Regions from separate parts of the Homo sapiens genome. Here regions 1, 2 and 3 are each linked to region 4. Evidence: fine-mapped expression QTL. A gene starts in region 4. Each other region holds a variant in brackets. All regions are shown on one strand. Distances are from middle to middle.

Evidence for each region. PIP is the estimated chance that this variant, and not a neighbour inherited with it, causes the effect.
Region 1: its variant is the best candidate, but not a certain one, in a credible set for the expression of GRIP1 in whole blood (TOPMed, PIP 0.72).
Region 2: its variant is the best candidate, but not a certain one, in a credible set for the expression of GRIP1 in esophagus mucosa (GTEx, PIP 0.58).
Region 3: its variant is the best candidate, but not a certain one, in a credible set for the expression of GRIP1 in sun-exposed skin (GTEx, PIP 0.65).

Annotation. Positions count from the first base shown.
Region 1 is chr12:66,390,733-66,395,888 of GRCh38, reverse strand. It overlaps GRIP1 (glutamate receptor interacting protein 1), which reads left to right. Exons shown (of 25, transcript NM_001366722.1): 17 at 1,537-1,681; 18 at 3,073-3,212; 19 at 3,387-3,581. Among named protein-coding and RNA genes, the nearest start is that of HELB, 91 kb to the right of the region's middle. The variant C/T (reference allele first, on the strand shown) is at 2,583.
Region 2 is chr12:67,076,246-67,081,401 of GRCh38, reverse strand. LOC102724421 (a long non-coding RNA gene) reads left to right here. Exons shown (of 4, transcript NR_120490.1): 4 at 3,658-3,776. Among named protein-coding and RNA genes, the nearest start is that of CAND1, 190 kb to the left of the region's middle. The variant A/G (reference allele first, on the strand shown) is at 2,428.
Region 3 is chr12:66,894,336-66,899,491 of GRCh38, reverse strand. It overlaps a transcript of GRIP1 not described here. Among named protein-coding and RNA genes, the nearest start is that of GRIP1, 220 kb to the right of the region's middle. The variant A/G (reference allele first, on the strand shown) is at 2,428.
Region 4 is chr12:66,676,053-66,681,208 of GRCh38, reverse strand. It overlaps GRIP1 (glutamate receptor interacting protein 1), which reads left to right and starts at 2,133. Exons shown (of 25, transcript NM_001366722.1): 1 at 2,133-2,359. The coding sequence starts at 2,305.

The DNA of each region.
Region 1 (5,156 bases), 290 kb after region 4:
AGATCATCACCAGCCTATTGGCCACAACTTCAGCATCAGCCCAGAAGAAACTTGTGAACCAGCAAACAGAGCTGTTTTAGGCTTGATATGGGAGCTTCTCAGCTGCTAATGTAAATTTGAGCCCAATGTTGAAGATTTTGTGCCCTAAAATGTTGACTTAAGCATTGCAGTGTGTGGTGGATGGTCTTTAGTTCTGAATGTGTGGAGTAAATACGTTGAGTAGAGCACTCAGAAAGTGGAGGTAATGGCTGCATTCAAAACTCCCAATCTATGGCCAGAAGTGAAGTAAGTGCTGGCGAGAGAGGACACATTGCTTCCCAAATGACTTGATAGACCTTTCATTTTATATTCATCATAATTCTTCACTGCAAACACAAATAATTGAATTGTTAACTCAAGCTTTGGTTTTCCTCCTTATTTTAGGATTTCATATCGTAAACGAACAGCTGCTCACTGCAAAAATGTGGCCATGTTAATGCTTCACTAGGATGTAGTCTGACTGTAAAAGCTGACTATTTTGCTAAAGTAGCCACTGAACCATTTCATTTTATCCTTAGTTGCAGAAATGAAACAGTTCCTTAACCATTCACAGCTCCCAGGCCCAAGGAATAAAACAAGAAGTGCCCAAGAACTTTAAGCATGTCAGAAGCAAATAAAACCTTTGAATTCTGAGACTTCTTATTTGCAACTCTGACACCATCACAATACCCATCACGTTGAAGGCGGCCCATGATATCTTTCTGGCCAGTGCTTTAGGCAGAGCACATTCACAAGTGTCTTCAACTATAATAATGTTGAATAGCCAAAATTAGTTTATGACAGTGTGGCAGGCTGGTCTATGCTGTTGAAACATAGCTTACAACAGCTGTTACTCCATTGAAAGAGGAGAGATGATCATTCAAACCTCCACTTTAATATCCGTAATTCACTGATAGGACTCACATTAGAAGACAGTCAGTGGAATGATATCTAAGAGATTCTAGATTTCTTGCTGTTGTCTTCAAGTTTACTTATCTAAGTTCCACTTAACCATATATATGTTATTTGTTCCAACCCTTCGCAAAATCCACTTTTCTATATCAAAAGTTAGCATGCATGTAAAGCTTAAAACGGAAACAGCGTGACCCAATGTCTGTCTTCTTTGTTACTGAGTGACTCTCTCCTCTCATATTATAATGCCTCCTCAGCCATATGTTTATTTCACAGATATTTACTGCATACTTACTAAATGCTAGGTAAGCACTGTCCTAGACATGGACACAGTTGAAAGGTCCTGCAGCCCCAGCTGGGCGGATCTCACACATTTAAAACATAAGTCATTAGGCAGTGTTCCTCTCCCCTGGCACTGACAATGATTATATCCCTGTATTTGAATGTAAGATCCTACTAAGGAAATGCTACTTCCCAAAATAATTATTTTCTGTGACATGATACTTTGACGAGGATGTTTTGAATTCTTTTATGTATGAATCTATGCATCTTACTCTTTTGCTTTTTCCAAAGAAATCAATTATGATTCCTTGGCATTTATTACAGATGAGCAAGAAAGTTCCGGAGCAATTATTTACACCGTGGAGCTTAAACGCTACGGGGGGCCCCTTGGCATCACAATTTCAGGAACTGAAGAGCCGTTTGATCCTATAATCATTTCAAGCCTCACTAAAGGGGGATTAGCTGAAAGGTAAAATTTGAAGTAACTGTTATAATTACCTGTGTCTGAGACGGGCTTCCTTCCTCACAACCACATAAAAACATGCTCCTCTCTCTGTGGTTATCTGTTGGCTTTTAAAAATCTGCACAAAGGATTGATCTTAGAGCCTGAGAACTCTCAGGCAGAGTTCCGACTTGACTCTGAGGGGCATCTTACAGGCAGTAAAAGACGTCTTGGGCTTAGCATTGATACTACTCTCTGAAATGTATAAGCTGACCACAATTGACTGAAGGCGGATTTGTATTGTGTCCATTTTGAGAGGAGGAAACTAAAGTTCAGGGAGGTTGAACAGCTTGTCCAATTTCATTCAGCAAACACTTGCTGAGCCTCTGTTACCTGACAGGTGCCACACTTAGCTGCTGTGTTTTCAGAAAAGGATGATACAGACATCATCTTCAAGGATTATGGGAAACAAAGTGTATAACCCATTTTAATAATGTCTTAAAAGCTGGAATGTCCATTTTTTCCTTTGGCAATGATGTACACACACACCCACTCCCCACCCTCCGCTAAACTGCATTTCTTTCTGAGATGTGTTGTTGGACATATAACAAACCCTATAAGCAAATCTGCCCTCCAGTAACCTAGCTCAGGAATACACAAATGCATTGTTCCTGCTAACAGTTGAAAACAGTGGCTAGCAAAATAGAGACACAGCATTGCAAAATGTTGGAGCTGCAGTGTACCTTAGAAATTAGCTCATACAGGCCAGGTGCGGTGGCTCACACCTGTAATCCCAGAACTTTGGGAGGCCGAGGTAGATGGATCACGAGGTCAGTTCAAGACCAGCCTGGCCAATGGGGAAACCTCATCTCTACTAAAAATAGAAAAATTAGCTGGGGATGGTGGTGCTTGCCTGTAATCCCAGCTA[C/T]TTGGGAGGCTGAGGCTGGAGAATTGCTTGAACCCGGGATGCGGAGGTTGCAGTGAGCCAAGATCGTGCCACTGGACTCCAGCCTGGGTGACACAGTGAGGCTCTGTCTCAAAAAAAAAAAAAAAAAAAAAAAAAAATCTGTAGAAAGAAAGGATGCTCCATGCTATCCACTACATTTGTCATTCAACATTGTTCATTTTCTTGGGATTTTTAGGGTGCTTAACCAATGACTCAGCTTTCTTGGAATTAAAAAACACAGTTCATTTTAATAACTAATTAAAACAATTTTTAAAATTTTATTGGAAACTAAAAAGTAATCCACAACAGATGCAGTTATCTTATAACATTGCCCAGGAGAAAGCAAGAAGGGACTTCTGGAGATCCTTACCAAGTCTTTATTATGATGAATGTATAAGGTATGTCAGGGAATTTATATTCAGTACCATACAGGGATTATTTCTACCTCTCCTATTACTATTTGGCTTTTCAGAACTGGCGCAATCCACATAGGAGACCGAATCCTAGCCATCAATAGCAGCAGCTTGAAAGGGAAGCCTCTGAGTGAAGCCATCCATTTGTTACAGATGGCAGGAGAGACTGTCACCTTGAAAATTAAGAAACAGACAGATGGTGAGTAGTGAATTGAAAGCCACAATTAAGGATTTCCAGTGCATTTTCTTCCTTGAAAGAATGTGCTAGTGTCTGTGTGTAATTCTAGGGAAACAAATCTCTAGCCACGGAGTATCTTGGTATATTTTTATTTAAATTTACTCTGATACTTAAACTCCTTTCCTGTCTATAAAGCCCAGTCAGCATCGAGCCCCAAGAAGTTCCCTATTTCTAGCCATTTGAGTGACCTGGGGGATGTGGAGGAGGACTCCTCACCAGCACAGAAGCCAGGCAAGCTCTCCGACATGTACCCCTCCACGGTGCCCAGTGTGGACAGTGCTGTGGATTCATGGGATGGGTCTGCAATAGACACCAGCTATGGAACTCAAGGTATGTCTTTACTTTGTCCCCCAGAGGACTTGTCATTGTTGAAGCCCATGCTTCTCCAAGATTCATCCTCTGCTCCATGAGGAGAATATCTTTCTTTAACTTGTGTCTGCTTTGGTGCAGCCATAATCATATTGAACACATTGAATACTTACACTCTGCTGGCCATGCATTTTCTTCTAGTGCTTATAAGGCATGAACCTTTACCAAACACTAACAGGCCTCCATTAGGTCTACTGATGGCCAAGTATCCCATCCAGGGCTTGTCCTTCAAGCTTAGATTAATGTGAGGCAAACCATACAATAAAGTGGCTCGTTCAATACAGGCCCCATTGCCTTATTTTTCAGCAAGCTTTCCACAAAGATGGATTGGGGAGTTTGGAAGAGGTGCATAAGAGATTAGCCAATGATTTGTGACTCTATTTATTCCTGCACACTCCTGACTTTTTTTTTTCTTTTAGAGACTGGGTCTCACTCTGTCACCCCAGCTAGAATACCCTGGCACCATCATAGTTCATTATAGTCTCAAACTCCTGGACTCAAGGGATCTTGCTGCCTCAGTCTCCTCAGTAGCTGAGACTATGTGCACACACCACCACACCCAGCTGATTTTTAAATTTTTGTAGATACGGGGTCTTGTCATGTTCTCCAGGCTGGTATCAAACTTCTGGCCTCCAGCAATCCTCCCATCTTGGCCTCCCAAAGTGCTAGGATAATAGGCATGAGCCACCATGCCCTTTCCCTGAATGTTTATAATTAGAGCACTATAATCACAATATAGGAAAGTATAGAGTAGATTTTTCTTCATAGGTGTCATCGTCATGTGAAGAAATACTATCTACATTAAAAAGCCTCACTCATGGAATATAAACACATAAAAGGTGTCAGACTGAATACAGAGCATAAACTAATAGCTTCTTTTAAAAAATATTTTCTTCCCAGTGATCCGTAGCATCAACAAGAGAAGTATGTCAAAACTTCTTGGTATTTCTCCTCATCTGAGCCTTACCTTCTCTCATGTTCTATGTAAATTCCAGCCTCTGAATCCCTTGTTTGCTCTGGGTTTCAGTCAGTCAAATAATAAAACACATAAACAGTTTAGAGAACACATTGGTGTGAGGGCTGCTTTGTCACTGAGTTAACTGTACTTTTTAGGAGTGTCTGTATCCAGTTTGCTCTCTCCTGGTTTTCCTAGTTTCCTTCTCTCAGCCTGCCTATGTTGTGTCACTCTCTGTTAAGTCCTCTGGTGAACAAAAAACAAAAATGGAAGGGAGAAAAAACTGGAAAAAAAAATGAAAGGAGATGATATTTCAAAGTTGTCAAGTTGTTACTTTCATTAGAGATGATACTGGAGTTAGGTGGGGAAAATACTTTGAACACCTAAGTAGAATTGGGGCTTTATCTGGCAATTAATTTTTCCAAGTCATAATACCTTGTGACAAGTTCACCTATGCCACCAAATAACAGACCTTCTGATTGCCTGAGAATTGATGGGCCACCAGAAGACACTGAGTAAAGGACAGAAGTCACATTCTATCAGAGTAGACTCAGGTTTATTTATCAATTTATTGTGTATTG
Region 2 (5,156 bases), 400 kb before region 4:
TCCATAATGCATATAAGCCCAATATATATAGAAACCTCGAAGTATTTCTCCTTGCTCCTAACATGTTAGCCTAATTACAACTTTCTTGTTAAGGGTTGTTTCAAAATATACAGACCTATCTGAATATTTCTGGTATTTTAGTATTTTTTTTAATAGAGACAGGGTCTTGCTGTATTACCCAGACCGGTCTTGAACTCCTGGGCTCAAGTGATCTGCTCACCTCAGCCTCCCAAAGTGCTGGGATTACAGGTGTGAGCCACCATGCCCAGACTATTTCTGGTATTTTATATTATGTTCTTAATACTTTTTTTTTTGAAATTAACAGAAAAGTTTCTAAAATGCAGTGGTTCATCTCTCTGACCTCATTATTCTGTCCCCATAATGTGCATCACAATAAAAACGACTGACAAAGGACTTTGAATACAAGTAAATATAGAAGCTCTATGCAAATATGCCTGTGGAATCAAGAGAAAGAAAGAAAAAGCTCTTAGGAATTGTTTATGCTTTCTTTCATCTCAAGTGCCATTTTCTCTGTACATCAGATAACATATTGATTTTAGTGTACTTCAATTCTCAATTTTCCATAAACCATAAAAACCTTAATGACTTCTCCAAAGCTCAAGTGAGAAACAATCAATTAATTTTCCCAGCAGTTCAACTCTGTCAAAATTAAAGTGCTATTTTAATGAATTTTTCAGACATTTAGGCTCTACACAGCAGCAGTTTAATGCCAAAAAGTCTTTCTTTGACCATTGCAAGAGAAGTTTAAATATATACCAATTAAACAGAAAGTTCAAATGTTTTAACCTTTATAATAGACATGAAAATGCAAGTCACTTTACATGGCATATTTCTAGAGTTTAACCTAATGCTGAGTCTACAGCAGCTCTGAACAGAACTGTTGCAGAATTATCCATAATGTAACAGTGAAATGCATCAGCTACTACCCACGTGATGCCATTCCTCCATGTTGTGATTTGAGGAAACACACACACACACATGATTGTCCTACTTCCCTCCATAGGTCTGATACCTAAAAATTCCCACTGCCAATACCACCTCTTTGAAATGAGCCATTTTTCAAAAGGCCATAGTAAAATAGTAAAAATTCCCAGAAGGGAAAAGAGGATAGGAAATTAACATGCTTTCATTTGCACAATAATGACCAATAATACATTAGCACACATTAATGTATTGGATTACTTAACTTGCACTTAGAAAGCAGAGATTACAATTGGGACAGGTGCAGTTTGGAATGGTGGAAAGCAGGTGGCAAGGTCTGTATCTTGAAGTGACAACAAGGAAGTCTCCAGGGAGAAAGAACAAATAGCAGTGATGGAAAAGAAGGTTCTGAGAAGGGTAAGGATTTGCAAAGGCTGGAAGTAGCTTCAAAGTAAAGTTTATTTCAGGCTGCTCTGAATATGTGAAGAAGAATAAAACACTGGAATATTAATTGAGCTGTGAAATGAGTTAAAAATAGAACTAAATTGCAGACAGATAGGAAACTCTAAGTTTCATTTGTAGAATATGGATTGCACTTTCAATAAAAGTTCAGTGATGTTGTTGCTTGATACAATCTGCTTCATCCGGAGCATGAGAGAATCCACAGTGATTCTGAGAGGAGACCTTCATGGCATTTCATTTAGGACCTGTTCAGGCTTTTCTGGTCTATTTTTGGTTTGTTTTTGATTTTTCTGGTTTGTTTATTTTTTTCACTTAGATTATAATGTAAAATTTACTTAATGACTTAGTGAATTTAGGGAAGCTATCTCGAAGCTTCATTATCTTGTTTATAACATTCTCTTTGCACAAGAGTGGATCTGTTACAGTTCCTTTATGAGGAGGAGGCACTTTCACACACAACCATTAAACAGTCTAATTTGCCATTTGGCCTGTTTCCTGTTAGATTTCAAGGTGGCTGTAGACAGTCACATTTCTTGGTGCTCATCTAATCTACTCTTTCTTACAATTTTGAGTTAATTCCTTTGTCTACCTGTTAATCATTTATAGGCATTTCCATAGGATAGGTCTTTTTGCATCTTCCACAGGACTGACTGCAAAGTGCGGTGCTAGAGGACCTTCTGAGTCAAGCCCTGGGACTTCTTCACCTACAGAAAGCAGGTTGGCATTCTTTCTTGGAAGCTGATCTGCCTCACGGTTGCTGTAATAGAAGGAGCGGGCTATTATCATTTGAACTGAGTGCAGTTATTCCTCCCCCACCATCATTTCCAGCCACACCTAAAGCTCAGGCAACTGTGCGGGTGGGCAAACAGAAGGAGCTGATTATCATTCATGACATAAATAAAAACCAAGAGGCAACCCAGTCACCAAGTGCAGGAAAGAAAATAACATCATAAATCTCATAAGTTATTTTCCATTTACATAACCAGTAGCAAATATCACTTGTAGTGCTTAAATAATATAAAT[A/G]TAAACTAGGAGAGACTCTTTTCATGGATCTTAATGAAACATCGTATATAACAAGTATGGAATAAAAAGGCTCATTGAACAGATTTTAAAAAGTCAAAGATAATATAAACAAATGCTCATACATGCATAATACATATGTGTCAGGCACTTTATGTTCATTGCCGAGACTGAAGTTTGCAGGTTGTAAAAATAAATAAGCTTACAAATCCCTAAGGGGTATTAAAAAAATCGTTTGGTACATCAGACAAACTGATCTGAGGTTGATGTTCCTGGGGATTTCAATAGATTGGATGGTCTGGCCCCATAACCAGTGTGGAGATGAATGTTACTTAGTGATAAGTTAAAGGGAAAATAGATTTGTCTTTACAAAATGCTTGTGTTCATACTCTTTACTGAGATGCCCTGCAATTATGATATAATCTATTTGTTTCATTCCAGATGTTCAGTCACTGTTACTTTGAAATAGGCTGGTGAACATTATTGTGTATTTCTTACACAGGGGCAAAGGAAAATTTTAGAAAACCACATCATTTGTAAATGGTTACATTGACAGAAGCAAGAATGAACTCAAACTTCTCTACTTCAATTTCTTAGCCTATTTACTACAGAATGGCTGATAGATATACCAATTCTAGAGTAGTCTAGAAAAACCTTAGTCTACGTTTTTTTCTCTATTGTTTTTAAAAACAATATTTACTAAAATTTTTGTATTGAAATGTAATATTGCTTTTTAAGAAAAATATTAAAGTGTATAAAAAGAGGAGAATAAAACTCACAGATAATGTTAATAGACAGGATACATTTTGATGCATCTCTTCCCTTCTAAGAAAAGTTTGGTTCATACTATATATACATATTGGTTTTCGTTAATCTAGGAGGTCATCTTTATTAACATCCATCAATACTTTATGCACTACTACAAAATAAACAAAAATTATGCTAGTACTATGACACAATGCTTAACGACTAAGAATTATTATTTTATACTTGTTGAAAGAAATCCTTTAGACATAGGTTTTATCAAATATCTTTACTTACATAATAAAAAATAAGTGAAACTAATTGTCTAGGTATTACTAAAACTTTTTCATGTTTAAACTTTAAGTCTTATGATTCACTCTATGATTCAGACTTTTCAATGTTTGTGGTTTTCCACACAATATCTTCTGTTTCAACTAGGGTATTGGCAAGACAGCATTTCTTGAAAGAGTGTTCTGTTATTGTTTCTAGAACTTGGCTTCAAGCTGACCTCACCCCACCTGCAAGTCTTAATACACTTGGACATGCCATGAAATGACAAGAAATATTCAGATTTTAGATATGTAAAAATATTAAAACTATGCCTCTTAGAATCTGTGAAGTATGGTATATGTAACCCTTTTTTGTGCTAAATGTTATAACATGAGAATTTACTACTATCTTTTAAATTATGATGTTTAAAGGCTCTACAATAGTCAATTTAACTTATTTAAGCAAACCTCTATTATTGAACATTTAGAACCTTTCCAACTTTTTGCTGTTATAAATAAAGGTATGATAAACATATTCAAGCATAAACCTTTGGTCACATCTTTGATTATTTCTTTCTTTCTTTTTTTTTTTTTTTTGAGATGGAGTCTCGCTCTGTCACTAGGCTGGAGTGCAGTGGTGTGATCTCGTCTCACTGCAACCTCCACCTCCTGGGTTCAAGCGATTCTCCTGCCTCAGACTCCCAAGTGGCTGGGACTACAGGTGTGCACCACCATGCCCAGCTAATTTTTTGTATTTTTAGTAGGGACAGGGCTTCATCACGTTGGCCAGGATGGTCTCGATCTCCTGATGTCGTGATCCGCCTGGCTCAGCCTAGGTAAAATGATATGTGGTTTGCAGTTTCTATATATTGCCAGATTGCTTCCTAAAATGATTGAATCAATCAATAACCAGTAGAAGATGTATGCACACAATATTTTCTAACCAGTAGTTTTCACTACTCCTCAGCCTATATACAAATTAAATGTTGCTTCTTGACGAGCTTACACTTTCCTTTCATTTATTCCTTTACTTTTATTTATCACCTCCAACATGATAAATAATTCCTTTTCCTGTTTGGTATTTACTCCTTTAATGATCCTATGAATTTCCACCAAGAAAGCTCTTAGTCATTGCTTCCCCAATCTATACTAGATATAACCAGCCACCTTAATTTTCCTCTGAAATCAGTTTTCTTAATCACTTCATTGCTCTAATTTTTTTAGATACTCAAGGGACTAAACCTGAATTTATTATTAGCAGGTTTTTGTCATGAAGGTAGGAACCTTCTATTTAATTTTCCTGATGAAATGCTTATTTATGTCTAGTCTTCTATTCAATTAGTCATTTTTCTCTTGTTCGGGATAATGAAGTCATTGCTCTCCATTCTGACCTAAAAGGTTCCTTTTAGAAATATTGTCAGACCTTGTAATAAGCAAGATTTCTATCTCTAGTATATTTATGGGCCAAGTCTTTCTGATCACAGGAGGTTTGTGTAGGAAATTAAAACTATTTTTAATATTCATCCTTTCAGCAAGCATCCACTGGGCTCACACTATTTATAAGGTGCAATGCTTAATGCCTGTGATAATACCAAGGTATGTAAGGCACATACCTGGCCCTATAATAATATGTCAAATTTATTGGATTCTCTTTATGCATCAGACTTGGGTCTAAATGCTTGCATGCACTAACTCATCTAACCCACCCAACAATGATAT
Region 3 (5,156 bases), 220 kb before region 4:
ACTCAGGAGGCTGAGGTGGGGGATCACTTGAGTTCAGGAGTTTGAGAATGTACTGAGCTATGATCGTGCCACTGCATTCCTGCCTGGGTGACAGAGCAGGACCCTGACTCAAAAAAAAAAATTTTTTTTCACATGGGACAGGAACAGTTTCTTTCCAATGATGTCTACAGGAAGTACATTCTGTCCTGACAGCAGCATTTCACTGAATGAGTGTTTCATTGACTAGTGAATGAGAGAGCTCCCTTTAAGCCTTTATTGGACCTGGGTACTCTTACTTGCCTTCCTGCAACTTTCTATGGGACTGCTAATGTCAAAGAAGATAGAGATCAAGTTCAGTCTGGGGTGAATTAAAAGAGTGATCCAAGAAGCAATATGGACATAAATTGAGAAATTAGAGTGAGTTACCCAGGCAGAAATGCAAAGAGAAGCGCTAGGGATACAACACCAGAAAAACAAGACAACCTGATCCCTTTCTGTGCTACATGCCCCTGCTGTAAGAAGATACTGATGCTGTCACATGCATGCTCTGTCATAATGCTCTGTTTCTTCTTGCTACTGCCAGGATCCTTGGTGTTGAGGCCTTACATAAACTTTCCTGTTCAACAACTCAATCCCTGTCAGCACAGGCTGCTATCCCTCTAGGCATCAAAGCACTTGGCATGTTTTTAGAGAGTAATTTCAAGGTAGTTATTGTAATTGTTGCTAATAAACACACTACATTGGGCACAAGCTGGACTAGGAAAGAGTGTCATAAAAAGAAATCTGTAACGATAAGGGATTGTAAATTGCTAACGAATATCCTAACAAAATAAAGCTTTTATTAAAATTAAGAATCTCTTTCTCTTATGAAAGAACTGGGAAGGATTATTTTAGCTTTACTTGGCATAGGCTCTTCATGATAAGAGGAGTGTATATATATGAATTTTGAGGGCAGCATCCAGAGCTTGGAAAAGGTCCAGAGAAGAGCAAATGCAATTATCAATAGGTTAGAAAATTGGCCCTTTAACAAAAGGTTAAAGGAGTTGGATGCATTTAGCCTGGAGTAGAAGCAATTTAATAACTGTTAAAGAGCTGTTATTAAGGAGGACACTGACCAATGTTCTCTCTCCCCATCGAGGACACAAATAAAAGGAATTGTTTAAACTGGAAGAGAAGAGAGGGATTTAGATTAAATATTAGGAAACATTTCTTAGGAGTGAGCATCATTAAAGAAAAAAATGCCATAAGCTATAACCAGTTCCTGAGGAAGGCTAAGGACTCTGTGTCTCGGGATATTAGTGTAGTGGGCACAACACAGGCTTTGAACTCAGACAGAACTGCTTTTGAATCTCAGTTCTTGCCTCGGCTAACATAAATAAAAGGATCTTAAAAATTCCTCCACTTTGTAGATTTTTTGGGGAATGTGGAACATAGTATTTGGACACGCATTTAGGTGATAAAGGTGATAAATAAACATTATTTTCCCCTTTAACTACTGTACTGTTGCTTGAGATTTTACAGTACACAGGTTAGGCAATGTATTCTTGTCAGTACTGATTATTTTTCTTTGTTTTGCGAGGATTTGGCTTTTATTTTTTATTGAAAAATGGATCCTAGCAATTTGTGGCGGATTATTATTACTTGGTTTTACAAAGCCATAACTGGTGTGTATGCATGTGTTTGGATTCACACTTACATCTTGAACAAGGAAACATTAGAAAGGTATTTCAAAATCACAGTAAAAAATACATATTAGAATTCACAAAAAGAAATCACTGGTCTAAACACGGTATGCCTGAGGCATAGCGTTAATTTCCCCTGTTTTGCCATAATTGGATCTGTTACCTGGTGTACTGCCATTTCATCAACTGTTTGTGAAAATCTCTATTTAGAGAAAACCCTTGTCTGTTTAGCTCATCCGCCACCATCATGACTGCCTCCCATGCATTTGTAGGTTGGTCTTTGAAGCATATGTTCTGAAGCGGCTGATTGCCTTCCTCAGCTGTAACCTCTGGGTCTTAATTAAGGGAACATTGTATTTTTCTGACCTAAATGGTATTATAGCATGTGCAGTTGTTAAACTAGTGGAGTTTTCTGTATTTTCAGAGGCTAATAAGGAGGCAGAAACTCTGAAAGTTGCTCTGTCTTGATTCTCACCTCCATGGAAGACTCCAAAACTGTGACCTTAAGCTTTCTCCCTAAGTAGGGGAGTGTGATTCTTAGCTCTTGGGGCAGGGCTTTAGGGCACTTTCAGTGAGCGCTTATAGCTCTTTCATGAAAAGAGCATTGACACATACCGAGTGCCTCCTGGGTGGTGGGTGCCCATCTAAGTGCTTCCCATGCATTGATTCATGCCATCTTCCCGACAACACTGTGAATTTCTAACTGTTTATTATTGTTCACATTTTATAGATAAGAAAATGGAATCACAGCAAATATAAGCAACAT[A/G]CCCAGGAGCACGCAGCTGGCAAACAGCTGAGCTAGCACTTGGACTCAGGCAAACTGGCTCCCGAGCCTGCACGTGTAACCACTGTGTGACACTGCCTCTCAGAGCAGCTTCGTGTTGCCTTCGGAACAGGTCTTCGGAAGAGTGTCTGGAAAATGCCTTGACACATTCTAATTATTTGTTCCTTTATCATGGGAATGTTTTTGAAATCTTGGAACCAGAAAACTGCCAAGCTATCTTCTTAATTCTTGTTTCGTGACACTTAACTTCGAATACAGAATTTATTATGGCTGGTTAACTTAGAACTCTCTTGATTCTAAAAACAGCTTCCTGACTTATTCTTCAGTCTGCCAGAGCTGTTCTTTGCAGCAGTATTTTAACCCCTTCACATCTTTCTTTATGTCACCATGACATTAACTTATACCACAACCACATCTCTGGAAGGGGTAGCCATTCATATGCAAAAGCATATCACAGATGACACCTTAGAAGCCCTTCTTGACTGGATTCACAAAACACTGACAAAAACCCTCTTTTCTACATCCAATGGGGCATTCAGGCCCACCAAAGTTTTTTTTTTTTTTTTCAAATTCCTCAGAGGTAATATTCTCACAGTCACTCTGACTTTGACTTTCAGTTCCCATTGAAGTGTTGATCTCCCTTGCCATCTGCTTCCCTATGCTCCATAGTGACCCATACCTGGCTTCCTTCTCCTCCTAGACTTCCCTGTGGATTGCACACACACAAGGCATTTTTAGGTATAACAGACTTTATTGAATGTTTGGGGCAACAGGGATCAGTTAGCAGTTCCATCACCACAACACAACCTCAAACTGAATTTAGAATTTTCTGTTTCTAAATGTCCTCCAGTCATCCCATCACAGAATTCTCTTAGGTCACCCTTGTAGCAAGCTCCAGTCTCTTGCAGCTTCATCCTGCTCCAGTTCTAGCTATACTTTAAATACAGTTTTTCTCGCATTTTATGCACAGTTGTCTAGCTGGCAACTCCTTATTTGACTTCATGCCTGCCTTTGTCTAAAAATTTGTTAATATCTTGCTAAACAAAATGACCATTGATTCTTTACCAGTATAGCAGAACTGGCAGTGACTTTTTTCTCAATGACAGGAATTTTAACTTTCCCCTCTGATATAAGAAGTGGCCATAGTCATTTTGAGTTTTAAACACATTTATTATTTAGGCTAAACTAGTAACAAAAATGTATTAGTGTTGCTTTTAAAAATATGATAAGAAACACAGTGTACTATGGAGTGTATATAACTTCCTCATCTTCTGGTAAATGAACATTAATATGAAAGTAAACCAGTACCACTGGTTACATTAACTGCAGGAGGTAGTGGTGGGTCTGCGGCCAGCTTTACCTTTGGGGAGAAATTCTTGAATAAGGCAGTGGTTGCTAATCAAATCTCATTTCTGCTTGTTAATGGTGCCCAGTAGAGAACATTACCCATACCTCAGTACAGGGCTCAGGTAGAAACAAGGGGAGAGAATGGATCCAGACCAAGTGAGGCTGTGACAGTTGACTACTATAAGGGTGCATTAGTCTGTTCTCACACTGCTACAAGAGATACCTGAGGCTGGGTAATTTATAAAGAAAAAGAGATTTAGTGGACTGACAGTTTCACGTGGCTGGGAGGCCTCACAATCATGGTGGAAGGCAAAGGAGGAGCAAAGGCATATCTTACATGGCAGCAGGCAAGAGAACGTGTGTAGGGGAACTGCCCTTTATGAAACCATCAGATATTGTGAGACTTATTCACTATCATGAGAACAGCATGGGAAAAACCCACCCCCTTGATTCAATTACCTCCCACCAGGTCCTTCCCATGACATGTGGGGATTATAGGAGCTACAATTCAAGATGAGATTTGGGTGGGGACACAGCCAAACCATATCAAAGGGCATCTGAACAATCCACAGACCTATCCCAAGAATGGGTGTGGTGAAGGCAGTTCATGGTAACAGAGGCTGACAATCTGGCACATGGTACCAGAGGCTGACAATCTGGCACATTGGGGGTTCCAGGTGGAGCACAGAGTGCAAAGTCAGGCATAGCTAATCCACAGCAGAGGCACCTGCTTCTTCACAGCAGCATGGCAACCACTGACCGGAGGATGGCAGCAAGACCCTGAGAGAGGGGCTTAGATGGGTCTTTGGCTAGGGTTCTAGTCCTACAAGGAGTCAAAGTTATTGGTCAGCATGTCCACAAAGATTATGGAAAAAAATGTTTCAACACAGTAACTGGAAAAGTTGCCATTGGAAGGCCTGAGGGACCTCTACTGCTTGTCCCTTGCAGGGTCTGATTGACAGCACAATTTAATTCCTAAGTCTGTGTATGGGAGGCAGTTTGTGTCTTCTGATCTAATTCTTGCCATTTTCATGATTAGCTCAGGAGCCTTGGCAGTCCTGGGCATATGAGGACCTTGGAAGGCAAAGTCAGGGAAATGTGTCAGGGCCAGTGATCATAGAACATCATTCAGCACACACTGGGATACAGAAGACCCTGGCTTTCCTCCTGGGGCATAGGCAGCTAGAAGGAGCATTGTTTCTATTCTTATAATGCAAAAATTAAAAAGTGTATCAAACTATAAGTTATGAATTGTCTGGAACTCATAGAGGACCTTGGTTGTAGGACAACCAACTGACTCAGAATCTAAGAAGAGAATGGGGCCTCCAGAAAGAGACAAGACACACATGCTGGCTTGGTAGGGG
Region 4 (5,156 bases):
CCAGGAGGCTCCATTTCTGTAAGATTCCTGGGGCTGCACCTGGGCAGACTAATAGGATAGATATGGATTGGCAGCCACAGTATTCAAAGAGAGAAAAAACAATCCCCTAGTTTGGGCTCTCAGAAACCTTTCAAAGAGCTCCATGATGGGTTATTTCCCCTGCCAAAGAAATAGGACATTTTAGTAGTTCTGAAGACCTTTCTTGGGACCAGAGGATAGAGCTTTTAAAACAAAACAAAAAAAATAAGCATATTAGGAAAAGGGGAAAATATTTGATCATTTTAGTCATAAGGAAAAAGCAAATTGGATTTGAGTCTGCAAAATAGCAGAAGGCAAGAGATTCCTGTATGGTTTTGAGTTGTATTTGAATAGACTGGGCTGGGGTGGTGGTGTTCCACAGGCAAGATTCTACTAATAGTAATTGACAGCTGCGTATTCTGAGTGCCTGGATTTTAGGAAATATGTTAGATTTGGAGAAGAATCTTGGAAAGAGCTAACTGTAAGTATTTATCTCACTTTAGCTAGTAACTCAGTTCTCTAGTACTAAGGTATATTTCTATTTAAAGCAAAAAAATATCAAGGAGGCTAAACTATTTCTAGGGATAACCTAATAGAGATGAACATAATATGGGTTGAAATTCAAAGAAAGATTTATGCTAATCAGAACAATTATAAAAATTTGATTTTGCACTGCAGTCCATTTAATATAGTATTTTCTATTGATTAGTGGTTGCTTTAGCTAGACCATCCTTGGTAAAAGAATTCTGTTCTTTTCAAAAACCTTTAAAGTAGATGCTTATGATATTCAGATGTTTTTCACACACAAATTATTTTTCTATTGGACTCAAAATACAAAGCATATGCATTTCAATAGCAGTGGATTGAAATTGTTTGAGTTCATATTGAATTTATGAATGAAGAAAAGAAAGTTTTACCACTAAATTTGGAATGTTGGAAGTTATTTTAAAAACCAGCTTGAAAGTTTTTTCACAGCCTGAAGAGTAGAGAATAAAACTGTATGAATAATTCATAAAGTCCTAGAAATATTAATCAAGTAGTTTAGACAGTGATATATCTTTTCATTTTGACTAATTGATTTTTTTTTTCTTAAACTTCCTGGCCAACTGTCTAATTTTTTGTCCTGAATGTTTATGTTAACTCCTGTGGGAGAATTCTGGATTTTGATTAAAATTCCCTACCAAATGTTAGTTCGTATTGACTATATGGCGAGCAGGCTGCTGCTGGCAGATGAGGAGGTGTGCTCCGCCTTCTTATCACTTTGTGAATGGATTGTGAAGGGTTTGTTAATTTGCTCTTCACTCCATTGGAGCAGATACTCACAAATATCTGCTATGTCGCAAGACCGTTTTATTTGCATAATGAGAAGAATGGTTTGGGGGATGGTTGTTTGGGAAATAGTATAATAAAGTATATTAAAAATAGAAATACTTGGCCTTGTTTGCCTTTATTTCTGGTATCTTTAGAAACAGTCTTGACTGTGTTGCTTTCCAGCCAAGTCCTTTTTTGGAAGGGTGATTAAAGGGGCTGGGACTCCATCTGCCTGATTGTCTGCCTAGCCCTAACCCTTTCTTGTATTCCCTCTATAAACAGACACTGCCTTAACTCTCATAGGTTCAGGAAGTACCAAAGAGGTCTCTGTCCTAGAGCTGCTTCCCCGCTATAGGCAGAACTGTGATTCTTTCCTCAATCCCAAATATAAACGGCCCTCCCTCTTTTTCTTTCCTTTTTTTTTTTTTTTTTTTTGGTTGTTGTTTAAAGAACATAGTACATGACCCATGCATTTCTTCCTAAAGTAAGAGTGTAAGCATTTCACTTGCATTTCCCATTAAATGAGACATATAAAGGACACTGACTTGATGCTGAGAAGGAAAGGGGCTGATGGTGGCTGAACTGACTGGATACATCGCCTTTTGCCTTAAACAGAATGCACTGTTCAGTGCTTAGCGTTAGATTTATGGAATGGCTCCTCACACAGTGTCGTCCCTGCTTTGTACAATTTGGTGCTTTGTTGCTATCGAAACGGCATTACTTTCTAAGCCATTGTGATTGTGAAGGGGGAGGAGGCTGTGGCAGGCAGGGGTGGTAGTAGTAGTGAATGACACAGATTTGCCAGATGACATGTAGCGGACCTCTGCATCAGCCAAGAGGAATTAAGCTTTGTCACTCCCCACTGGGACTACCTTTCTCCTGGTATGTGCGCAAGGAATTCATATGCTGCTGCTGCTGCAGCCACCAGAGCAGAGAGCCTTGAGTACACTTTGCCACAGAAAGCAGTGAGCAAGAATGATAGCTGTCTCTTTTAAATGCCGTTGTCAAATTCTGAGGCGACTTACTAAAGGTATCGTGCTTTCCTTGTTATTCCCTCAGCGAGTCTGTTGCAGTATCCTATAAACACAGTTTAATGGTTTTTACTTTCAAATATGACTGCCTTTGCAATTTATTGTCAGGCAACAAAGAACTCAGTGAAATATGTATAGATACATATGTACAGGTAGACTCGGCTTTGCTTTCTGTCCTTACATCTCGGTTGTGTTCGTGCTGAAATTATGAAAGCAGCTTGTGTGATTTTTTTTTTAATGACTTCATTCTTTGCTGAAAAGAGAATGTGTTTGGGTCCGGTGCTGAAGTTATTGTGGGAAACCGTCATTTTGCATGCTGATTAACTGGCCAAAAGGAGTCAAGTGTGTGTTACTGTCCTTTCTATGATACATATACTAAATGCAGCTGGCAGATTCAGGACTCGCACAGCTGGTGGATCCACAGAATAATTGTTTGTTCTATGACTTTCCAACATCTTAAGAGCTTTTTCCCTGGACAGCTTTAATTTCTTTATGTGTTAGAATTGCATGTTCAGAAAAGTATGTAATTCCAAATGCTTTGGTCCTATGTAATACTAGAAGTTTATTTGAAAGTAAAAATCATTGCTCGGAATCTTATCATCAAGAATTACCAGCTTCAGATTGTCACTCTTAGAACTCTAAAATAGTAATTAAATTTCTCTGTAATATTTAAGGTATTATTTTATTTGAAACCATTCTGGATGTGCCATCTCGTTTACTTTGTGAGCATTCTATTGCAAAGTTAGTAAATGGATGCCTTAAAAATCCTGCCTTGTGTCCATATAGATATGTGAGCTCTCTTGCCTTATTTCCTTTAGATAGAACCTTCCTTAGAGAAAATTTATTATTTAAAAAAAAACTTCATTCTGAGTAAAAGTATTTAGTTGCAAATGCCTTTCTTTTTCAGCCTGTAATATAGAGTACTGTTGAGTAATTAATGGATATAATTATGTTCTAGAAGCTCTGAACCTATAAATATGTTAATGGATGCTATTTCTGTCAGTTTAGCTTGACATATCAGAATTCTTTGATCACCAGCAGTGCAGCTAAAAATGCAATTAATATTTTATCTGGCAGAAGAATGAGCACAAAGCAAATCATGAGAAATAGATCTTGAGTCAATAACAGGAAAGAGAATAAATACTGTAGACCAACTTACCGAATGCATTTGCAAGTTGTTTGGATAGCAGAGTGAGTCCTTTAAAAGGTACTTTGGGGGAAATGTAGGGAAGATTATACATTTTAAATTAGGCTATTAGCAGGAGGCTGTAAATTCTGTTTTGACTTTATCCTCTACAATTGGTACAGACGTACAATTTCTGTTTATAAATCATGACTAAGAGACTATCCTTTCTGTTACGGTTTTGGCTGAGACTTTTAAAGGCAGGCCCTTATTCTGAAAAGTTCTTTTCTGACCTGATTTTGGCATTTACTTATCTTGATGTTGAGAAGTTGATGGTCTTCTTACATCATAAACATGAAACAATCAGTATTTTCTATTCATCTGTATCAGTTCTTTTATAAGTACTACATACAAGGAAGAGAGTGAACCCAAGCAATTTATAGTTCTTACAAATATTTTTAACTTTCTCAGTTTTCTGAATTTTATGGAAGCATTGATCTCCTGCATTGAAAGGAGATTTAAGTGTTTACTAAGATAGTCGCTAAAAATCTAGATAATTGAGGAAAGTATTGATAACTGCTTTGGAGTTGCTACCTCACACTTTTTTCCAAAATCTTTATGTCTGCTCTATTTGGTATTTAACTTAAGACTGTCAGTTGATGATTAAAATAAAATCTCTTTGCAGAATCAATTTGCCATAATTGGGTTCTTCTTTGTGTTTAACTGGCTGTCCAAATACTTACAAGAATGCACCTGAGTAACACGGTACCTTGCCTTGCCATCTGCTTCAGTCTTGTCCAACAACGTTCAAGTTCCACCCATGCTTCTTGTTCCAAAGTGGATTCATTGAGTTCTAGCACCCCACCCATACTTGTGGTGCTGTTTTCTTAAGCTGTAATGATAAAACCAGGAAACATATGTAATTACAATATTAAAATGACCTTTCTTTTAGGGTCAGGAGTGTATTTGGGGACAGGGGTGGATATACACTTGAAGTTTCTTTCTTGTCCCATTCTCCCTACTCACACAACTCCCACACCCTCACCCTCAACTCCCAAACATACATATTTCTTTATACCCATTGAGGGCTCCACCTAACACTCACTCTTCCAGACATTTAGCACAAGGCATTACACTTAGTAGGCACTTCAAAACTGTTTGTTAAAATGAATTGGATTTGTCTAGTTGAAAGTAGTAGGGCATTTAAATCTTCTGTGAGCTCTTAGGAAATGCTTCAAGAGCTTTATTAGGCCTCTTGTGGCTAAAACCTTACCCAGATCTTAGCAGGGGGAAGTTTGCTTCATGACTCCAAAACTACCTTGCTATTTGTGGTTGATATCACCCACAAGAAAAAGCAATATGGCAATTGCAATTTCTTCTTAATTTTCTTAAGGAGAAAATGATGGAATAAAAGGGAAACAATTTTCTACAAACACCCACATTCTTGATATTTTTACTTGATTCTTACATTCTTCATATATCTAATACATACTTAACAAATATCGATTAAGTACCTACTATGTGCCAGACACTGACATTTTTGCACTTAGAATTCTGGGCTGGGACAATTTATAGGTGTAAAAAGCATTTTTAAAATGAATATATTATTGAACAATAAATATTTTTTCTTTAGGTCAGATGTAATTTTAAAAGATGTATAAAACATGTATTTC